4 separate regions of the Homo sapiens genome follow, and all the other regions are linked to region 1. The links come from fine-mapping of genetic effects on gene expression. A gene starts in region 1. Each other region holds a variant in brackets. All regions are shown on one strand. Distances are from middle to middle. Region 1 holds the start of DDX52 (DExD-box helicase 52). Region 2 overlaps SYNRG (synergin gamma). Region 3 holds the start of SYNRG (synergin gamma). Region 4 overlaps DDX52 (DExD-box helicase 52).

Region 1 (5,153 bases):
GAGAGAAACAGTAGGAAGGAACTTTACTTTTCATCATTGTATAACTCAAGTGTTTACCAAAAAAAGGTAAATGACTAGGAAACTTAATATTATAGATTAAAAAAATATAAACAGCCCTAGAGTACAGTACAAGAAAAAAAAAAAAAAAAAAGGCCAGGCGCGGTGGCTCACACCTTTAATCCCAGCACTTTGGGAGGTCGAGGCGGGCAGATCACGAGGTCAGGAGTTCAAGACCAGCATGACCAACATGGAGAAACCCCGTCTCTACTAAAAAATACAAAAATTAGCCAGGCGTGGTGGGGCACACCTGTCCCAGCTACTCAGGAGCCTGAGGCAGAAGAATCACTTGAACCTGGGAGGCAGAGGTTGCAGTGAGCGGAAAACATGCCATTGCACTCCAGCCTGGGCAACAGAGCGAGACTCTGTCTCAAAAGCAAACAAACAAACAACAAAAAAACAAAAACCTCTGTCAAAATGGGCAAAGAGTAAGAAGAAACAATTCACAAAAGGTGAAATATTAATGTCCAGTAAAGCATACAAAAATATGCTTGACCAGCCAGGTGTGGTGGCTCACGCCTGTAATCCCAGCACTTTAGGAGGCGGAGGCGGAGGCGGAGGAGGGTGGATCACAAGGTCAGGAGATCGAGACCATCCTGGCTAACACGATGAAACCTGGTCTCTACTAAAAATACAAAAAATTAGCCAGGTGTGGTGGCAGGCACCTGTAGTCCCAGGTACTTGGGAGGCTGAGGCAGGAGAATGACGTGAACCCAGGAGGCGGAGCTTGCAGTGAGCCGAGATTGCACCACTGCACCACAGACTGGGCAACAAAGCGAGACTCATCTCAAAAAAAAAAAAATGCTCGACCTCACCAGTTATCAGTAAAATATAAAATTGTTTCAGGCAGGGCGCGGTGGTTCAGGCCTGTAATCCCGGCACTTTGGGGGGCCAAAGCGGGCGGATCACGAGGTCAAGTGATCCAGGCCATCGTGGCCAACATGGTGAAACCCCATCTCTACTAAAAATACAAAAATTAGCTAGGCGTGGTGACACGCACCTGTAGTCCCAGCTACTCAGGAGGCTGAGGCAGGAGAATTGCTTGAACCCAGGAGGCAGAGGTTGCAGTGAGCCGAGATCGCGCCACTGCACTCCAGCCTGGAGACAGAGTGAGACTCTGTCTCAAAAAAAAAAAGTTTCATTCATTAGCTTGGCAAAAAAATTAACACCAATAATATTCAGCACTGACAAGGACTTGGGAAGTCACTTTGTAGTATTTTTCAGAGAAAGGGTACATACCCTTTCACCATATGATGCTACTTTTCGGATGGTATTCTGCAGAAATAACAGTACCTGTACAAAAGGATTTATGTATAAATATCTTTACTTAAAATTACCTTTGCTGTAACAATATTTCTAATGACAAATACCTGGAAACAACCTGAGTGCCATCAGCTGACAAATGACCTTATTGTCTGACTTGTAGCCATAAGCCTGTATTATTTTTATAACTGAAAAAAATTAAAGAGAAAAAACATGACAGAAATCAAACACTAACCTGAAGTCATCGTCTTCCTTTTTTTCTTGCTCTGCTCCCTCTTCCTTTCAGTTAGGCTCTCTTCTTTTTTCTCTCCATTTTGGGGCTTCTGATGTGTTTGTGATGCTCCACACACACCTGGGACAGACTTCTTGTTTCCAAAAAAGTCCAGTCCCTGAAGCACCTCCGAAGAATCAAAGTCATATTTCCTTTTTCCTATCTAAAACCCAAAAAATGTAAAATGAAACCTACTGACAGAATACCATTGCTTTCATTCAAGCAAGACTGTTCAATGACTCCTCATCTTTTCTACCCTTTCACCAAGTATCTGTCGAGCTAACAGGTGTCTGGACAAATGGAATCTGAAGAGACCTTCTCTGACCTCATAATAGTAACAAATTAATATTAGCAATGAACACATATATGCTTACTAAATGTCAAGCAGATTTCTAAGCATGTTTATACATATTAAATTGCTTCACATTTACAACTCTATAAGGTAAATAGCAGTATTACGAATGAGAAAACCAAGGCATTCGGAAATTAAGTAACTTGAGGTAGGTCTAAAAATGAGTAACTGGCAGACTTAGCATTTAGACCCAGATAATCTGGCTCCAGAGTTCATACTCACCAGTTAGAGAAAGAAGAAACACATGTCACACGCATATACACATCCAAACAACAAAGTAGACATTCAAGATTTTCCAGAATTGGGCCCCAATTGACCTCCCCCGATGTATCACTCACTACTTCTCTAGGTAAGAGCCCCCATTTCTTAATCGCTCTTCTCATTGGTTACTTAAGCCATGGGGTTGAAGCAATAAAAAGAATCACGCCCAGTACAACTATACGCATGCCAAGCCAAACTTGGGGAGACTATAGTAAGAGAATCTGTTTTCTCCATCTTTGGTTGTTTCTGTTTTCGAAATTCCTTTCCTCTAGGTTCGGAGAAAAAGTTCCTTTTGAAAGGAGGATTCCAACTTTGCTTTGAATAAGAGGGAGGAAAGAGGGTTTCCGTGCCAGGCCCAACTAGGTCTACAACAGGATAGTTAAAGAGCTTATTCAAAAGGCTTGAACCGAGCAGCCGTGCAGGCAAGCCGAACACAAAAGGAAGCAAAATACCCCAAGGGTGGCGAGAGCCAGGCCACGGGTGTCCAAGTGCGCCGGCCTCCCCCAGCAGCGGGTTCATTCCCGGGCTCCTGCTCCTTCTCAGTTACTCGGCCCTCGGTCCCTTGGGCACAGTACCTGGAATCGAGCTGCGTCTGCCGAGAAGCGTCTCGTGTCGAATTTGGCCCCCGCGCCGAGCCGGCGAAAGAGATCGTGGACGTCCATCTTTACCCAGAAAGCGCCACAGTTCTACGGCGCCTGCGCAGACTACTTCCCAGGCCCCGGGCAGCGTCGGAAGAGGGCGTGAGCATAATTGGCTCCTGTAGGCGGAGCCTGGCTGGGTGAGAAACGAGGCTATTTTATTATCGTGTACTCCGTCATTATTTATCTTTTTTTTTTTTTTTTGAAACAAGGTCTCTCTCTGTCGCCCAGGCTGGAGCGCAGTGGCGCAATCGCAGCCTCGAACTCCTGGGCTCAAGTGATCCTCCCATCTCGGTCTCCCAAACTGCTGGGACTACAGGCGTGTGTAAATTCTTTTAAAAAATATTTATCAGTATCCTCTTATGTTGGGCACTGTTCTAGACTTTGAGGGATACTATAGTAAACAACATCTTAAGATTCCTCTTCTTACGAAGCTTACATTTTAGTAGGGACAACAGATATTGTTAACAAATAAATAAGCAAAATCTCTGTAAAGTAATAAGTGCTATAAAACAAAAAGGTGTAATTGATAGAGAAAATGATGAGGGAGCTGACTTAGTGAAATTCACTCTGTTGAAGTGAAAACTTGAGCTAAGAGGAAGCAACCTGTCCAAGATCTGGGAACAGCATTCCAGATAGGGGAAACACGTGGCTGAAGGGAAAAAAATTGGAACCTTGAGGGAATAGAAAGAATGCCGGTGCGACTAGAGCCAAGTTGCAGTCTGATAGAGTAGTACAGATAAGGTTGGAGGGACAAACAGAAGCCAGATCTCACAGAATCTTGTAACAAGGTCATAGTAAGGAATTTGGACTTCCACCTTGGGAAACTATTTGAAAATTTTTATGGAGAGAAGAACATGATTTAGTTTATCACATTTAATTTTTTATATTTATTACATCTGTACGAAATTATTTACTGCTTATTGCCTCTCCCTCTTCTGGAATGTAAGTCCCTGAGCACAGGGATATACTTTGCTTCGTTATGTATCCCCAGTTTCTGTGCACTTTGGTGAATGAATGCGTGGATGTTTCATAAAGGATTACACTGGCTATTTGGAGAATGGACCATAGAAAAGCTAAGAGTGGAAACAGGTTAGTCAAAGTAGAATGATGATCATGGCTTGTCTAGGTTGGTATCTGTGCTGAGAGAGATAAATGGATTAGATCTGGCATGTATTTTGGAGGTAGAGCTAAACGTACCTGACGGATTTTATGCAGAGGTGAGAGAAAGGGAGGAATCAAAGATCACTCCTAGTTTTTTGGCTGAGTAGATGGCATGCCATTTACTGAGCTAAGAAAGCCTGAGAGAAGAAGGGCTTTCTGGTACAAGTGAGATACGGAGGATGGAATCAATTGTTATGTTTTGGACGTGTTAAGATGCCTACCTAGTTGACTTTAAGTGGAGACATCCAAGTAGGTAGTTGGTTCTGAATCTGAAGCTCAGGAACAAAAATTAGGGCTAGAGAAATTAATTTGGAAGTCATCAACATATAAATGATACAAAGGAGTTGTACCATATAAGCATTTAACTTATAAAAATTCAGTTATATGTATTTGACCAAAGAGAATGAAACATACTTGAAATTGTATGGGTGAGTCCTTTACAATCAAGGAAAGCAGGTGTGAGGTGAGCATGTGATGGGGGAGGTGAATCTGCGGTTTCTCAGATGAATTCAGCCCCTTACTCCCTATTACAGTGGGTCGGGGGGTGGTCTTCCTGTCCCAAGTGTGTCTACTCTTTAAAAATAGGAACTTCCCAAGTACTTCATCTGTTGTTCAATAAAAATAATTTATCTTCAGCCAGGCGCAGTGGCTTATACCTGTAATCCTAGCACTTTGGGAGGCCAAGGTGGGCAGATTACTTCAGCTCAGAAGTTTGAAACCAGCCGGGGCAACATGGCGGAACTCCATCTCTACAAAAAATTAAAACATTAGCTGGGTGTAGTGGCACACACCTATAGTCCCAGCCACTTGGGAGGCTGAGGCAGGAAGATTGCTTGAGCTTGGGAGGTTGAAGCTGCAGTGACTTGTAACGGCACCACTGCACTCCAACCTGGGTGACAGAGTGAGACCTTGTCTCAAAAATAAATAAAATTAATCTATTTCAACATAAGAGGAAAAACTCAATATTAGTGTGTTGATCTTCAGTTTGGCACATAAATATGGCCATAGCCATATATAAAATTAATATGTATGAAATGGCAACTACCATACTTTGTGGATGACTTAGGGAATTTAAAAAAAAATTCAACTTTATGAGATTTTTTTTTTCTTTATGAGCTGATTTAGAACCTAATCCCTATGTAAGTGG
Region 2 (5,153 bases), 48 kb before region 1:
TTATCCCAAGAAATGAGGACATATGTTCACGCAAAAACCTTTATTTGTAATAGCCAAAAATTGTAAACAACTCTGATGTCCTTCAGTGAGCAAAAGGTTAAACAAACTGTCATACATCCACACCATGGACTATTACTCATCGATTATAAAAAAAATGAACTACTGATACATGCAACAATTTGGATGAATCTGAAGGGATTATTCTAAGCGACAAACGCCAAACCCAAAAGGTTAATGATTCAATTTATATAACATTTTTGAAAACACAAAATTATAGAAATGGGGAACACACTAGTGAATGCAAAAGGAGTAAGGTGGGGCAGGAAGGAAGTGAATACAGCTACAAAAGGACAATGTGAGGAGATCCTTGGGGAGATGGAAATGTTCTGTATCTCAGCTGTGCCAATGTCCATATGCTGGTTGTGTTACTATATTTCTACAAGTTTTACCAATAGGGGAACTGGGCAAAGGATTTCTATTATTTCTTACAATAACACAACAGTTTGCAACAGGTTTACACATGTCCATCATGTGCTCTAAACTTGCCTAGATGTTTGAAATGCTTCAGAATAATAATTTTAAAATGTATTGTACATCATGAGGAGTGTTTTCTTTTTATGTGTTTTGGGGAAGGGAGAGATTATAATAATCAATAATAATATAATAATAATCAAGACTAAATTTCTGGCCGGCGCGATGGCTCACACCTGTAATCCCAGCCCTTTGAGAGGCCAAAGCGGGTGGATCACTTGAGGTCAAGAGTTCAAGACCAGCCTGGCCAACACTATGAAATGCTGTCTCTACTAAAAATACAAAAATGAGCCAGATGTGGTGGCATGCACCTGTAATCCCAGCTGCTTGGGAAGCTGAGGCAGGAGAATCGCTTGAACCCAGGAGACAGAAGTTGCAGTGAGCCGAGATTGTACCACTGCACTCCAGCCTGGGCAACAGAGCCAGACTCTGTCTCAAAAAAAAGACTAAATTTTTTTATGTTGACTTTTATCTGAATCATCACTTTTATCTCCAAAGACTTAAGAGATAACTAAAGGAACAATGGGTTTGCTTCATGTATGTCCCTGATTGGTTAGGGCTATTGAGTTTCGGGGTGGGGGGAAATAAAATCTGGATGTTTTTCTCCTTAAAAAATGGTGAGTGGCGGACAGGTGTGGTGGCTCATGCCTATAATCCCAGCACTTCGGGAGGCCGAGGCAGGCAGATCACCTGAGGTCAGGGGTTTGAAACCAGCCTGGTCAACATGGCGAAACCCCATCTCTACTAAAAATACAAAATTAGCCGGGCGTGGTGGCACATGCCTGTAATACCAGCTACTTGGGAGGCTGAGGCAGGAGAATCGCTTGAACCTGGGAGGCGGAGGTTGCAGTGAGCCGAGATCGTGCCATTGCACTCCAGCCTGGGCAACAAAACTCCCTCTCAAAAAAAAAAAAAAAAAATGGTGAGCAGCTTCCAAACAGTATAATGCCTGTCAGCAAGATTAAAGGTTAAAGAAAAAGACTTTGGCTGCTTTGTCTTAGAATCATTAATACACAAGCTTCTGATATTCAGGGACATTATTAAGGTACTAACAACTCTCATAGTTTACTTTTTTCTTATTGTTCTGCATATTAGAGACTCTTACTGTTTTTGGTTGTTTCAAACTCTAAAAACATTTTTCAGATAATTGTGTAAGTCATAAAATAATGTTTATGAATATTATTTTAATTATATTAATTACAATATTAATTATTTTAATTATATTAATTACAATATTAATTATTTTAATTATATTAATTACAATATTAATTATTTTAATTATATTAATTACAATAATATTAATTTTAATTATATTAATTACAATATTAATTATTTTAATTAATATTTAATATTAAAATAAAAATTAATGATTTAAAATTTGTATCAATTGTTATTAAGATTCAGTATTAAGCTTAGGAAGTCTTAATTTAAAATACATTGTATTCTATGGTAGATTGTTTTTAGTTATTTGCTGCCTTTCTTCTTCTTTTTTTTTTTTTTTTTTGAGATGGAATCTCACTCTGTCGCCCAGGCGGGAGTGCAGTGGCGCAATCTCAGCTCACTGCAACCTCTGCCTCCTGGGTTCAAGCGATTCTCCTGCTCAGCCTCCTGAGTAGCTGGGATTACAGGCATGCACCACCACGCCCGGCTAATTTTTGTATTTTTAGTAGAGACGAGGTTTCACCATGTTGGTCAGGCTGGTCTCGATCTCCTGAACTCATGATCTGCCCACCTCAGCCTCCCAAAGTGCTGGGATTACAGGTGTGAGCCACTGCTCCCAGCCATTTGCTACCTTTATTCTAAGAGAACTACACATCCCTATGTGGTTTACATTCGTCCTGGTATATTCCTCCCCTATTGATGTTAAGGCCACATTACTTTGGTGAGCAGAAGTGACT[A/C]ATAAATGCTACCTCCAAGTGTTAGCTTTAAAAGACATCACAGGGTTTGGCCATCTCTTTTTCCTATGCCAAGAGCCTAGGATGTCCTGGCTGAGGGTCTTAGGATAAAGAAAACATGGAGCAGAGTCAGCACTAACCCATAAGGATATGTATCACGAGTGAGGAATAAACTTTTCTAAGTCACTGAGATCTGGGGACTGTTTCTGCAGCACACCCTAGTGAAAGCTAGCTTAACATGAATTAAAAACCTACACAATTTCAATGTATTCCCTTCCTTCTAGAGACAGATAAAAAATGACACTGGAAGTTTTCCTGACCCTTTAAACACAAAACAGAAGCTTTATTTGCATAATCGACTTCAAAACAACAATGGTTTCAACTTAAAATTCTGGTCATGAAGTCCTAATATCACTTATTTATAAGTTATATACATGTGTTACTGTATAAAAGTATATACTGTATAACAAAACACACAGAAATAGAAAATGTTAAAGTATTAGGTAAATAAGTAAACTAACGCAGAAACAAAAAACCAAATACTGCATGTTCTCACAAGTGGGAGCTAAACACTGGGTGCACATGGACATAAAGACAGGCTCGACAGACATTGGAGACTACAAGACGGGAGAAAGTGGGGGAAGGGTTGAAAAACTACCTGTTGGTACTATGCTCACTACCTGGGTGATGGGTTCCATCATACCCCAACCCTCAGCATCACACAACATATTAGTGTAACAAACCTACAAACGTGCCCCCTGAATCTAAAATATAAGTTGAAAAAAGCAAAAATAAGTAAAGTATTAGGTAAAAAAGAAATACAGTATATGGCCTTCAAGATAGCTGTTAATAGTACAAAAGCAAAAACCTTTTTTTCCTCTGGCCTTTTTTTTTTTTTTTGAGACGGGAGTCTCACTTTGTTGCCCAGGCTGGAGTACAGTGGCATGATCTTGGCTCACTGCAACCTCCACCTCTCGGGTTTAAGGGATTGTCCTGCCTCAGCCTCCCGAGTAGCTGGGACTACAGGCACATGCCACCACGCCCAGGTAATTTTTGTATTTTTAGTAGAAACAGGGATTCACCATGTTGGCCAGGCTGGTCTCGAACTCCTGACCTCAAGTGATCTGCCCGCCTTGGCCTCCCAAAGTGCTGGGATTACAGGCATGAGCCACTGCACCTAGCCTTTTCCCTCACTCTTGGAGGGTGAACACATCTTCATTTTAGTTTGAAGGAAGCCATTTATTTATGCTTATTTCTAATTGTAACATTAAGCTCTTAGCCTGTAGCTCTTGATATATAAACGTAACAACAAACAATAACTTTGTAAGAAACCAACTAAAGAAGCAAGTACCTGCATAGCAATAGGTCCTTGGGACATCTGAGAGCTGTAATTCATTCCCATAATGCCTTGCATATTAGGCTGCATGACAGAGACCATAGGAAATCCTTGTTGCTGCATCGGCATCAGGCCTGCTGAAAATATAAAGACATTATTAAAGTCAATGTGTTTTAAAGTTTATTTTCTTAAAACCATAAGTACCTAAAGGACTTGTTACTTGGCAGGAAGCAGAGTGTAATGGAAAAAGCACAGGGTCCTGAGTGAGACAGATGTGAATATGAATTCCAACTCCATCATTTACTTAGCTGTGTGATCTTGAACAAGTTACAAAACTTCATCTGTAAAATGAAGATAATATCTCTTCTATGGAATTTGTATGCATATTAAAAAACAGTATGGCCTAATTGGGGTACTCAGCCTTCAAGATGGCCTCCAATGACCTCTGTCTCCTGGTATTCATACCCGTGTGTTGTTCCATTCCATACTGAATGGGGCTGATCAGTATAACCAACAGGATACTGTGGAAATGACAGCATGTAACTTCGAAGGCTAGTTATTTTTTTTTTCTTTTGAGACAGAGTCTCACTCTGTCACCCAGGCTGGAGTGCAGTGGCATGATCTCAGCTCACTGCAACTTCCACCTCCTGGGTTCAAGCCTCCCAAGTAGCTGGGACTACAGGTGCCTGCCACCACGCCCAGCTAATTTTTGTATTTTTTAGTAGAGATGGGGTTTCGCCATCTTGGCCAGGGTGGTCTTGAACTCCTGACCTCAACACCCGCCTCAGCCTCCCAAAGTGCTGGGATTACAGGTGTGAGCCACTGTGCCTGGCCTGAAGGCTAGTTCTTAAAAGACACTGTAGTTTCCTCCTGGTTCTTTTGGATCACTTGCTCTGGAGCAAGCCACTGCCACGTCATGAAATACTCAATAAGACCTATGGAGAATCCATGTGGTAAGGTACTGAGGTCTTCTGCCAAAAGGCAGCATGAATTTGCCATCTATCTCAGCGAGCCACCTCGGCAGCATCTCCATGAAACTTTCAGATGACTGCAAGCCTGGCTGACATCTTCACTGCAATCTCATAAGAGGTCTTGAGCCTGAACCACCCAGCAGAGCTACTCCTAGATTCCTGACCGAGAGACACACTATGAAATAATAAAATGTTTACTTTTTAAAGTTTGGGATAATTTGTTACACAACAGCAGATAACTAACAAAATAACAGTTAGGAGCATGAACTCTGGGAGCCAACTAGAAATGACACATACTATTTTGGAACCTTGGGCAATCTGCTTCTTTCTATGCCTTGGTTTATCATTTGTAAAACTGTTTAATACTTACTATGCTCAAAGAAATGTTATTCTTCTTCCTTTTTCTTACATGAATAGGTA
Region 3 (5,153 bases), 34 kb before region 1:
ACACCATTACTCTCTAAAAAAAATAATATTCCTTTTTCTATTGAGGATACAGCTTCTCAGCCTCAGAAAGTTGCCAATATATGTAACATATGTACCATACATTTTTCAAGGTAAGAATCATTTTAACCACTTCTTTCTCTCCTGTATATCGTTTACAGTTTTAGAATGCAGATGTTGCTACATTTACAAAGGGGGGAAATTTTAAAATCATTCTAATTTCTATCAAAATTCAACCCATATTTATTTTAAAAATTTGTGTCCATGGACCAATGATACTCAAATACTGCAAACTAAAGGGAATAATGCACTTGAATTTCTGAACCTGAGGTCCTCCCCATCCAAAAACATTTTTTAAGTAAATAAAAATTTGGGCCTAGATATCAATTCTTCTAAGTTTACATTTTCCCAGAACTTGGTGCCATGATTAATCATATACTTGATCAAATTAATACCATCCAGGGACATTTTAGAAACTGTAATCACATATAGGAAATAAATAGAGGATGCCGGGCGTGGTGACTCAAGCCTGTAATTCTAGAACTTTGGGAGGCCAAGGTGGGCGGATCACTTGAGGCCAGGAGTTTGAGACCAGCCTGGCTAACATGGTGAAACCCCGTCTCTACTAAAAATACAGAAATTAGCTGGGCGTGGTGGCGCACGCCTGTAATCCCAGCTACTTGGGAGGCTGAGGCAGAAGAATCGCTTGAACCCGGGAGGTCGAGGTTGCAGTGAGCCGACATCGTGCCACTGCACTCTAGCCTGGGTGACAGAACGAGACTCTGTCTCAATCGATCAATCAACAAAATTAGCCGGGCATGGTGGCGCGCACCTGTAATCCCAGCTGCTCCGAGGCTGAGGCAAGAGAATCGCTTGGACCCAGGAGGCAGAGGTTGCAGCGGGTCGAGATCACGCCGCCGCACTCTGGCCTGGGCAACAGAGCAAGACTTCCTCTCAAAAAAAAAAAAAAAAAAAAAAAAACAAGACAAAAGAAAAAGAAAAAACAAATAGAAGGGAATTATTACATATGTTTCTTCTCCAGCCAGAAACTGGCTTACACGAAGTATTTATTTTTTAAAAAACCCTCTAATGAAACAACGGAGAGAACAAAAGAGAAAGCAAAAAGTTTAAAAATCTAAAGTTAAAGATGTGCAGAGGAAATGAAAAATGGGGTTACACACAGGTGGTTTATTGAACAGCCACTGCTCGTTTCCTGACAAGCACCTGCAAGAGGTGATAACTTTAAGGTCCTTACACTTTTGTAGTGTTCACGACTCCGAAATTGAAACACTGCATATAAAAAAAAAACCTAACACTTCGTTTTCCAAAGACAATTTAGGATACTGAAGATGCAAAGCTACTTTTACCTCCAAATGTGTGTGCTGTTGTGTGTTGGTTAGTAAAACAAAATCAGACTAGGTCATTATAGAAGTGGAGTGAAAACTTCCTAGAATAAAATATTTCCTTAAATGATAACGAATCTGTCAGCTTGTAAAACGTACATCTCCCTTACCATTCTGGGTATAAGAACCACGGCAGTTCTTGGCTGAAATGTGGCAGAGGGCAGATTTGTTTAAGGGCTGAGTCTGGAAGCTTTGTTCTAATAAATGCGCAACTGCTGTTTAACAGTGCACTTTCTTTGTTTTTAAATGCCTTTTTAAAAAGAAGACAGACAAGTCTTAAGAGTTAGTGTACAAGACAAGAACTCTATCTCAAGACCATTACTAATTCAGAGGTCTTTAGATGTTCCTGCTGTTTGTCGCGGGTTAAGGAAATAAAGAGGACAGGACACTCTAAAAGGGGAAGAGACAAATAGTCCACACACACACCCCCCTTGGAAACAGTCCTCCAGCTTTGTGAACAGATTTTTAAAGCCCTCCCTCCAACATATCCGGTTAAGTCTAGAAAGCCCAAGGAAAGGGAAGACCCTGGTCGCTTCAGAGGCAGCTAGGACTAGGAGCGGAGTCGCGGTTCCTGATTTGCCCC[G/GC]CCCCCCCCCACCCCAAGAGGACCCTCATCTTCTCTCCCCTCCCACACTGGGCGCGCGCTCGCTCCCCGCTCGATTCCAGGCGGCCGGCGCCCCCAACTGATCCCGGAACACCAGCGTCCAGCACCTGGGCTCCACACGCCCCTTTCGGCCTGGGTCCCTGGGGGATGACCCTCCTCCCGCAGCCCAGTTCCAAGGAAAAGGATCAGGGCTGGAGAAAACTGCCATAACTGCCAAGCGCCCCTCGCCGCCCCCGCGGAGGCCAGCGGGCTCCCGCCCGGCTCTTCACACCTACCCGCCTCCCCCGGCGGACCCCGCGCCAGCTCCCGCGGCCCCGCCGCCACCAGAACCAGCTCCTGGCCGCAGCGCCATCTTGCTCCCGACCTGCCGCTGCCTTCGCCGCCGCCACCTTATCAGCAGCTGTCAGCTGAACACAGCCACTTCCGGGTCAAACACCAGGCCCCACCTCGCCGCGGACCGGGCGATGGGGCGGGGCCTCGCGCCCACGTGACTCCCCCGGCCCTCGGGGAGGCGTGGCGCGCCCACGGCACGTGACCCGGCGCCGCAGGGGTCCCCCAGATTCAATTCTAGCTCTCGGGCTGGTGGGGCGGTCGCGGGCGCCTCTCCAAGGGAGCTGATTCATTGTCTGGTAGGCCCTCTGCAGGGCCCAGCTGGCGGCCCAGTGGCAAAGCGCCGTTGGTCCTCCGTTTGAAAACCATGATCGCGGTTAGTGGAAAGAGTAGGCTGAGTCCTGATTTTTAAACTATACGGTGGGTACACTGGTGTTCTTTTATTGTTACTCTTTACACACAAAGAACAGATAGGTCCTGAAGGGCCCTTTGATAGTCTCGCAGCACTGATGAGTGATCAGCTCTCCCCTCTTTCTCTGGAACTCGGTAGCTTCATGTTGGCACCTATCACAGACGCTGAAGGCATTTAAATTTTATTTTAAATCAACCAAGAGCCCAAAAACCCAACCCATATTTCGAAAAAACTCCAAGGTGTACTACTCTTGTTTGGTTCTGCCATCCTGCCACCTTACAGTCCTTTTGTTTTTCCTATTCTTGCAGGCAAGTGCAAAACAGTGGTTTTTGGAAGGCAATTCATAATTACTCTGAAGCTATTTCGGCATATTTTTTACTGATTTTTTTTTTTTTTGAGACAGGGTCTTGCTCTGTTGTCCAGGCTGGAGTGCAGTGGCATGATCATGGCTCACAGCAGCCTCAGCCTCCCTGGCTCAAGCGATCCTCTCGCCTCAGCCTCCTGAGTAGCTGGGACCACAGGCATGCACCACCACACCGGGCCAATTTTTTTTTTTTTTTTTTTTTTTTTTTTTGTAGAGATAGGATCTATGTTGCCCAGGCTAGTTTCAAACTGCTAGGCTCAAGCTATGCTCCCACCTCGGCCTCCAAGTGCCAGGGTGTGAGCCACATGCCTGGGCTGTGATTTTTTTTTTTCTTTTAATCAAACTACTGTCTGGAAGTAAAACATGAAAGTTGAGTAATTTTCTCAAGCACGTAGTTTGCTTGCTAACAAGTAATGGATTAATTAGCTTTACGTTTTCACTCTTGTCTCAAGGTTTTTACTGGGTAATAATTTGTAATAAGTTATTAGGCACAAACCACTGGTCAGGAACTGTACACGCATTTTAAAAAATCCTCAGTATCCTTAGGAGTTACAATTGGCATCTTACAGATGAGAAAATCAAGGTTAGAAACAGTTACTGTCATTTGTCCAGATCATACAGCTACAAGCAATGAGGATCAGGATTCAAATCCAGGCCAGTTTGACTCTAAAGTCCTTGCTCATTTCACCAGAGCCAGCTATTCAATTTTTATGTTTTTTCTTTTGCTGTAACTGCCTGTTCACTAATTTCACTCCTTCCCTTCCTTGTGTGAAGCTGAAATTTATGTAGCACATAGTTCCAACTGCTTTGAAGGAGCTAAATTTAGTATTAATACACTGACTAAGTTGATACAGGTTACTGTAGATACTTTAAACAGACACAATAAAGTCAAGGATCATAGATGTGACCTCAGTTTGTCCTGGAATCCTTTTTGTTCCTCTTCTTTGCCTATTGGTTTTTACATTTGCAGGATTCAACTCAGGATGTCGGCCTTCCATGACATCCCCAATCTGGGTTAGATGCCCTCTTGTGATGCTTTAGCATCATGGCCTTACATCTAACAGAGCACTTGCCACACTAGTCATGTGCTACATGATGATGTTTTGGTCAGCCACAGACAGCAGATACAATGGTGGGATGAGAAGTGGGGGTGGAAGACAGTGAGACTGATGATCCTGACCTTTTGTATGCCTAGCATAATGTGTGTGTTTGTGCCATGGTTTTTAACAAAAAAGTTTTAGAAGTAAATAGTAAAACAAAACAAACAAACAAAAATTAATAGAAAAAAAGCTTCTAGAATAAGGATATAAAGAAATAAAGTATTTTTCTACAGCTGTACATTTGCATTTTAGGCTAAGTGTTATGACAAGAATCAAAAAAGTTTATAAAGGCCGGATATAGTGGCTCACTCCAGGTCAGGAGTTTGAGACCAGCCTGGCCAACATGGTGAAACCCTGTCACTAAAAATACAAAAATTAGCTGGGTGTGGTGGCGCATGCCTGTAGTCCCAGCAACTCGGGAGGCTGAGGCAGGAGAATCACTTGAACCCAGGAGTCAGAGGTTGCAGTGAGCCGAGATCATGCCACTGCACTCCAGCCTGGGCAACAGAGCAAGACTCCATCTCCAAAAAAAAAAAAAAAAAAAAATCTAAAAAACCCAACTGGACAACAAGCAAGACCTCGTCTCTACAAAATTTAAAAATTAGCTGAGTGTTGGTGGCCCGCACCTATAGTACCAGCTACTCGGGAGGCTGAGGTTTGAGGATCACTTGAGTCTAAGAGGTCAAGGCTGCAGTGGGCCATGATTGTGCCACTAAACTCCAAATTAGGTAACAGACCCTGTTTCTCAAAAAAAAAAAAAAAAACAAAACAAAAAAACTCATAAAGTAAAAGTTACAGTAAGCTAAGGTTAATTTATTGAAGAAAAAATATATATCTAATATATATAATACATAATATATATAATGTGTGTGTGTGTGTTTATTTTCAAGACAGTCTTGCCCTGTCGCCCAGGCTGGAGTGCAGTAGCGCGATCTCGGCTTACTGC
Region 4 (5,153 bases), 22 kb before region 1:
TTCTAAGAAACATTTTGGAGTTGTACTAATGCTCTCCCTTTCCAATGGTTTCTTAATCATCTTTTTCTTTTGTTTGCTGAAAGTTACAAAGTAAAAAAGGAAAAGAATTAAGTGCAACTTCAATTAGAAGAGTTAAAGCTAAAATTAGTTTTGATCCTTGATCACAAAATTCATTTTTTTTTTTTCCTTTGAGACGGAGTTTTGCTCTTGTTGCCCAGGCTGGAGTGCAATGGCACAATCTCGGCTCACTGCAACCTCTGCCTCCTGGGTTCAGGCGATTCTCCTGCCTCAGCTTCCCAAGTAGCTGTGATTACAGACATACACCACCACGCCCGGCTAAATTTTTTTTTGTATTTTAAGTAGAGATGGGGTTTCTCCATGTTGGTCAGGCTGGTCTCAAACTCCCGACCTCAGGTCCCGCCCGCCTCGGCCTCCCAAAGTGCTGGGATTACAGGCGTGAGCTACCACGCTCAGCCACAAAATTCATTTTTCAAAACCATTTACTGGTTTAAGGTGGGGCTGTAACTACTTTAATAAACGAGATCGCCTAATAGGATTTACAGAGCTAACTCAAAGGGATGATAAATTCAATCAACCTTTTAGAAAGCTACTGACTGTGATTAAAATATGTCCTGTGCCAACCTTATATCCTGTGTCAACAAGCATCAGAGTTTGATTTTGATCAATTAAGTTTTTTACCAGCTTTATGAACTAAAATAATTCTCAGCATATTTTACTTATACTGAATACTTTTAAAAGAATCTGAATACTTCACATTTCAAGGATAAGCCTAGGTGCAGTAGCTCATGCCTATAATCCCAGCACTTTGGGAGGCCCAGGTGGGCAGATCACTTGAGGTCAGGAGTTTGAGACCAGCCTGGCCAACATGGTGAAACCCCATCTCTACTAAAAATACAAAGATTAGCTGGGCATGGTGGCGCACACCTGTAATTCCAGCCACTTGAGAGGCTGAAGCAGGAGAACTGCTTAAACCTGGGAGGCAGAGGTTGCAATGAGCTGAGACTTCATCTCAAGGAAAAAAATAAATAAATAAAGGATAAAAAACTGGCAAGGAAATAACATGTAATATTCACAAGCAGTTTTGGACTGGGCACAGTGACACAAGCCTGTAATCCTAGTACTTCGGGAGGCAAGGATATAAGATAGCAAGATCACTTGAGGCCAGGAGTTCAAGACTAGCCTGGTTAACACAGCAAGACCCCATTTCTACTCCCCAAAAATCTAAAAAATATTATAGCCAGGCATGGTAGTACATGCCTGTAGTCTCAGCTACTTAGGGGACTGAGGCAGGAGGATCACTTGAGCCTAGGAGATCAAGACTACAGTGAGCTGTGATCATGCCACTGCACTGCAGTCTGGGCAACAGAGCAAGAAAAAAAAAAAAAAGAATGTATATACAAAGAGACAGACAAAGATACAGGTAAATTCAAGATTGTACCTTAGTAGTTTCTGAAAACCTTTTATGTATTCTGGTACAGGACACCCAGCCTGCTGTATAACATTAGCAACGCTGAAAAAGAAACCCATAAACATAAACTTGTATCTTTGCTAAATTGATGTTTATGAATGTAAACCCTCTGCACAACCTTACAGGGAACTAAAACTACACAAAGTAATCCACAAAGTGTTCTGATATATTATCAATTATTACCTGATGTAAGCACATTGGATTACAGAGAGAACTATCCACTGGGCTGAAATTAATGCACTGATGAATAACTATAGATAGCAGCTATTTCAACATTTATCAAGCCCTACAAAACTGGTAAACTCAATCTTGGAGGAAGCACTGACTGAAGCCAGAGTCAAGCTTAAATTCATTAAGTGAAAGTGCCTACTATGGGGTTGGCACCGTTGCCAAGTTTTTTGTGTATAGTAACTTCTTCACTCTTCACAACAAGCCTGTGTTGTAAATACTATCACTGTCCTCATTTCACAGATGGAAAACTGAGGTGCATAGTTTTACACTAATATTTGGGTCATGGGATTCACATGCTTGGAGTTGCTGAGGCCTATGGTGGATCTAGGTTGTTGGAATATACCCCTCTACACACGCACATTTGAATCTGCTTAAAGCGATATAAAGGCTGACAGGTGGCAGAGCCAAAGCTCAGAAAGCACAACCAAAATATTTACCAAAACTGATAAACAGATCTAAGTACAAACCTCCTTTGGCCAAAACTAGATTAGCTAGAAATGTGAAGTGTTAATCATCATCAACCAAAAATTACTATAGGCAGTCAAAATGCAGGAAACTCATCTTCTACATTAAAATCTAACATCAACCATTGAAAGAGTCCTGAGTCTGAAACTTACAATGAACATTCCATTTTGAATATGTATTTCCAAATTCTAATAACGGAAGGGCAAAAACAAGGCCTTTTGATCATTTTTCCTTTCCCATGGCTAAAATTTGGTCAACTAACACCATTATCAGTAGAATTTGGGACATAGCCATTTTGTAATTATCTCTTAATTGAATATACATATAAGAATAATGAAGCAATTTTGCCAATAACACTAGGTTATTTTTTCTAATTTACCTTCTTAATAATGGCTTATCATCCTCAGTGAAAAATGTAATTGCTTTTCCCTTATTCCCTGCTCTTCCAGTTCGACCTAAGAAAAATTAGACCATTAAAAAACACATTTTGGGGGGAAGGAGGCTCTCAAAATTCATTTATAAAAGTCACTGGATTTTCACAGCACTAAGAAGTGAGCATATGTGCAGGGAATAGCAGGGGTCCTAAGACAGATCAGTGGGTGACAGAGGGGAAGGAAAAAAAAGACAACTCACCTATCCTGTGGATATATTCCACTGAGCTAGTTGGAAAGTCATAGTTGATCACCAAGTTCACACCTTTAAAATCAATCCCTCTTGCTAGCAAGGCTGTACAAATCAGAACCCAG[A/G]TTTTTCCTGCTCTGAAACTGTGGACTGTGTTATCTCTCTGGTTAACAGAATATATATTAAATTGTTTTAGAATGAAAACAGGTACTTCATAAATTTAATGTCAATAGTTTAAAATCAAGTAGTTCTTCTGAGTTTCAAAGTATATATTTGACTTTACCTGTTGTTGTGTTCTCTCTGCATGAATAACATCCACATTAATACCTTCATATATGAGCTCATGAAAAAGTTCTTTAGCCCTTTCAATGGACTGAACAAAAACAAGAACAGGTGGATTGAAACCCTAAAAGAAGACAAAAATTGGCATACATAACTCAATCAAGAATACAATTGGTCATTATTTCATAATTTGATTGTAGCTTTTAAGAACCCAATTCAATTTAGTGTACTTTCTTGGCCAAATTTCTTGGGCTAGTGGTCTAATTCTGCCTCCATCTTCGTCACCATTCTCTCCAATTGGTTATTTCCACTCAACTTGAAATATATTCTCCATCTTGCTAATTCCAATAATGTTGTCTAATCAATCCCCCTACACCCCACTATGGTAACAGATGCCTCAACTTTGAAATAATCATCTCTTGACTTCTGTGCCTCAAAACCTTTTTTTATTCTGCTTAAAATGAAATAATTATCTTTTTAATTCACTGGGTTTTTTGGGGTGAAATTAATTTTTTTATTCTTATGGATTTAGGGGTACAGGTGCATTTGTGTTACACAGATATATTGCATACTGGGGAAATCTGGGCTTTTAGTGTACCCATCACCCCAATGGTGTACACTGAACCCCACAGGTGGTACTTCATCCCTCATTAACTCATTATTTATCCTAACTCTGGTGCTCTCCCCAAGCTTAGTCCTTGGTTCTCAGTTCTTTCAATATAATCTTTATTTTACTGAGTTGAATCTCTACTACTATCTCTAAGTAAACATTTTTTTTTTACTACATCTGATGTCTGTGAATCTAAACAAATTATTTTTACATTTACACTATCAAACCCTTACTCTCTCTCAAACCAGCTATCTTTTTAACCGTTCATATTAGAGTTTCTTAGCCTTTTTTTTTCTTTTTTTTTTGAGACAGAGTCTTGCTATGTTGCCCAGGCTGGAATACAGTGGTGCAATCTTGGCTCACTGCAACCTCTGCCTCCCAGGTTCAAGCGATTCTCCTGCCTCAGCCTCCTGAGTAGCTGGGATTACAGGTGTGCACCACCACGCCTGGCTAACTTTTTTGTATTTTTAGTAGAGATGGGGTTTCACCATGTTGGTCAGGCTGGTCTCGAACTGCTGACCTGATGATCCGCCCGCTTCGGCCTCCCAAAGTGCTGGGATTACACCGGTGAGCCACCACGCCTGGCCGAGTTTCTTAGCCTTTTTATGATGGCTTAAACATCTCTTTTGGAATCTAATGAAAGCTAAGAAACTTTCTAATAAGTAACTACTCATTCACACAAAAATCTTACGTATAATTTTAGAGGGTTTGCAGACCTCCCAAAGCTCAAACATGGCTGAAAACCTCTGGTGTATAATCTCCAAGGAATATCCTGGAAAACCTTAAATTTCCTAGTACCAAATGATTCTCTTAAGAATATTAATAAAATACATTTAGCATTTACTATGTGCCAAGCACTATTATATAATAAGTACTATGCTTGTACTAATGAATTAATAGTAAAACAGCTCTATGAGGTAGATATTATTATCCCATTTTACAGACAAGGAAAATGTGGAAGAGAGGTTAAGTTGTGCAAAGCTATAGTGGTGGAGCTAGAACTACCCAAGTAGCCTGGCTCCTGAGTCCATGGTCTTAACCACTAAAGCAAACCATTCTATAGTCACCAGGTACTTGCAAACTTTTCCCTTCTAGCCTCCAACTATACTTAATGTCTCACCACTAAGGCTGCTGCCCTTATTTCTTCCTCATCTCTGCCTACCCCAGTTTAAAAGCCTGATTGGTTTCCTTACTTTCCATCTTTCCCATTACAATTCACCTTACATATTACTGTTTAACTAATTTTCCTTAAAAATTATGTAGTCACAATTAGCCGGGCATGGTGGCAGGCACCTGTAGTCCCAGGTACTCGGGAGACTGAGGTAGGAGAATGGCGTGAACCCAGGAGGCAGAGCTTGCAGTGAGCCAAGATGACGCCACCGCACTCCAGCCTGGGTGAAAGAGCGAGACTCCATCTCAAAAACAAAAACAAAATTATGTAGTCACATTCTTCAA

Evidence for each region. PIP is the estimated chance that this variant, and not a neighbour inherited with it, causes the effect.
Region 2: its variant is fine-mapped to the expression of DDX52 in whole blood (INTERVAL, PIP 0.90).
Region 3: its variant is fine-mapped to the expression of DDX52 in lymphoblastoid cells (GEUVADIS, PIP 0.95).
Region 4: its variant is fine-mapped to the expression of DDX52 in whole blood (TOPMed, PIP above 0.99).

Annotation. Positions count from the first base shown.
Region 1 is chr17:37,640,555-37,645,707 of GRCh38, forward strand. It overlaps DDX52 (DExD-box helicase 52), which reads right to left and starts at 2,892. Exons shown (of 15, transcript NM_007010.5): 1 at 2,780-2,892; 2 at 1,556-1,754. The coding sequence starts at 2,866. It overlaps LOC105371756 (a long non-coding RNA gene), which reads left to right and starts at 2,384. Exons shown (of 2, transcript NR_188617.1): 1 at 2,384-2,982. RefSeq lists an enhancer at 439-939.
Region 2 is chr17:37,592,446-37,597,598 of GRCh38, forward strand. SYNRG (synergin gamma) reads right to left here. Exons shown (of 22, transcript NM_007247.6): 3 at 3,778-3,899. Among named protein-coding and RNA genes, the nearest start is that of SYNRG, 14 kb to the right of the region's middle. The variant A/C (reference allele first, on the strand shown) is at 2,430.
Region 3 is chr17:37,607,003-37,612,155 of GRCh38, forward strand. It overlaps SYNRG (synergin gamma), which reads right to left and starts at 2,416. Exons shown (of 22, transcript NM_007247.6): 1 at 2,277-2,416. The coding sequence starts at 2,353. It overlaps DDX52 (DExD-box helicase 52), which reads right to left. Exons shown (of 15, transcript NM_007010.5): 15 at 2,737-5,153. The variant G/GC (reference allele first, on the strand shown) is at 1,984.
Region 4 is chr17:37,618,309-37,623,461 of GRCh38, forward strand. DDX52 (DExD-box helicase 52) reads right to left here. Exons shown (of 15, transcript NM_007010.5): 10 at 3,090-3,212; 11 at 2,819-2,969; 12 at 2,565-2,640; 13 at 1,460-1,531; 14 at 1-76. Among named protein-coding and RNA genes, the nearest start is that of MIR378J, 5.8 kb to the left of the region's middle. The variant A/G (reference allele first, on the strand shown) is at 2,932.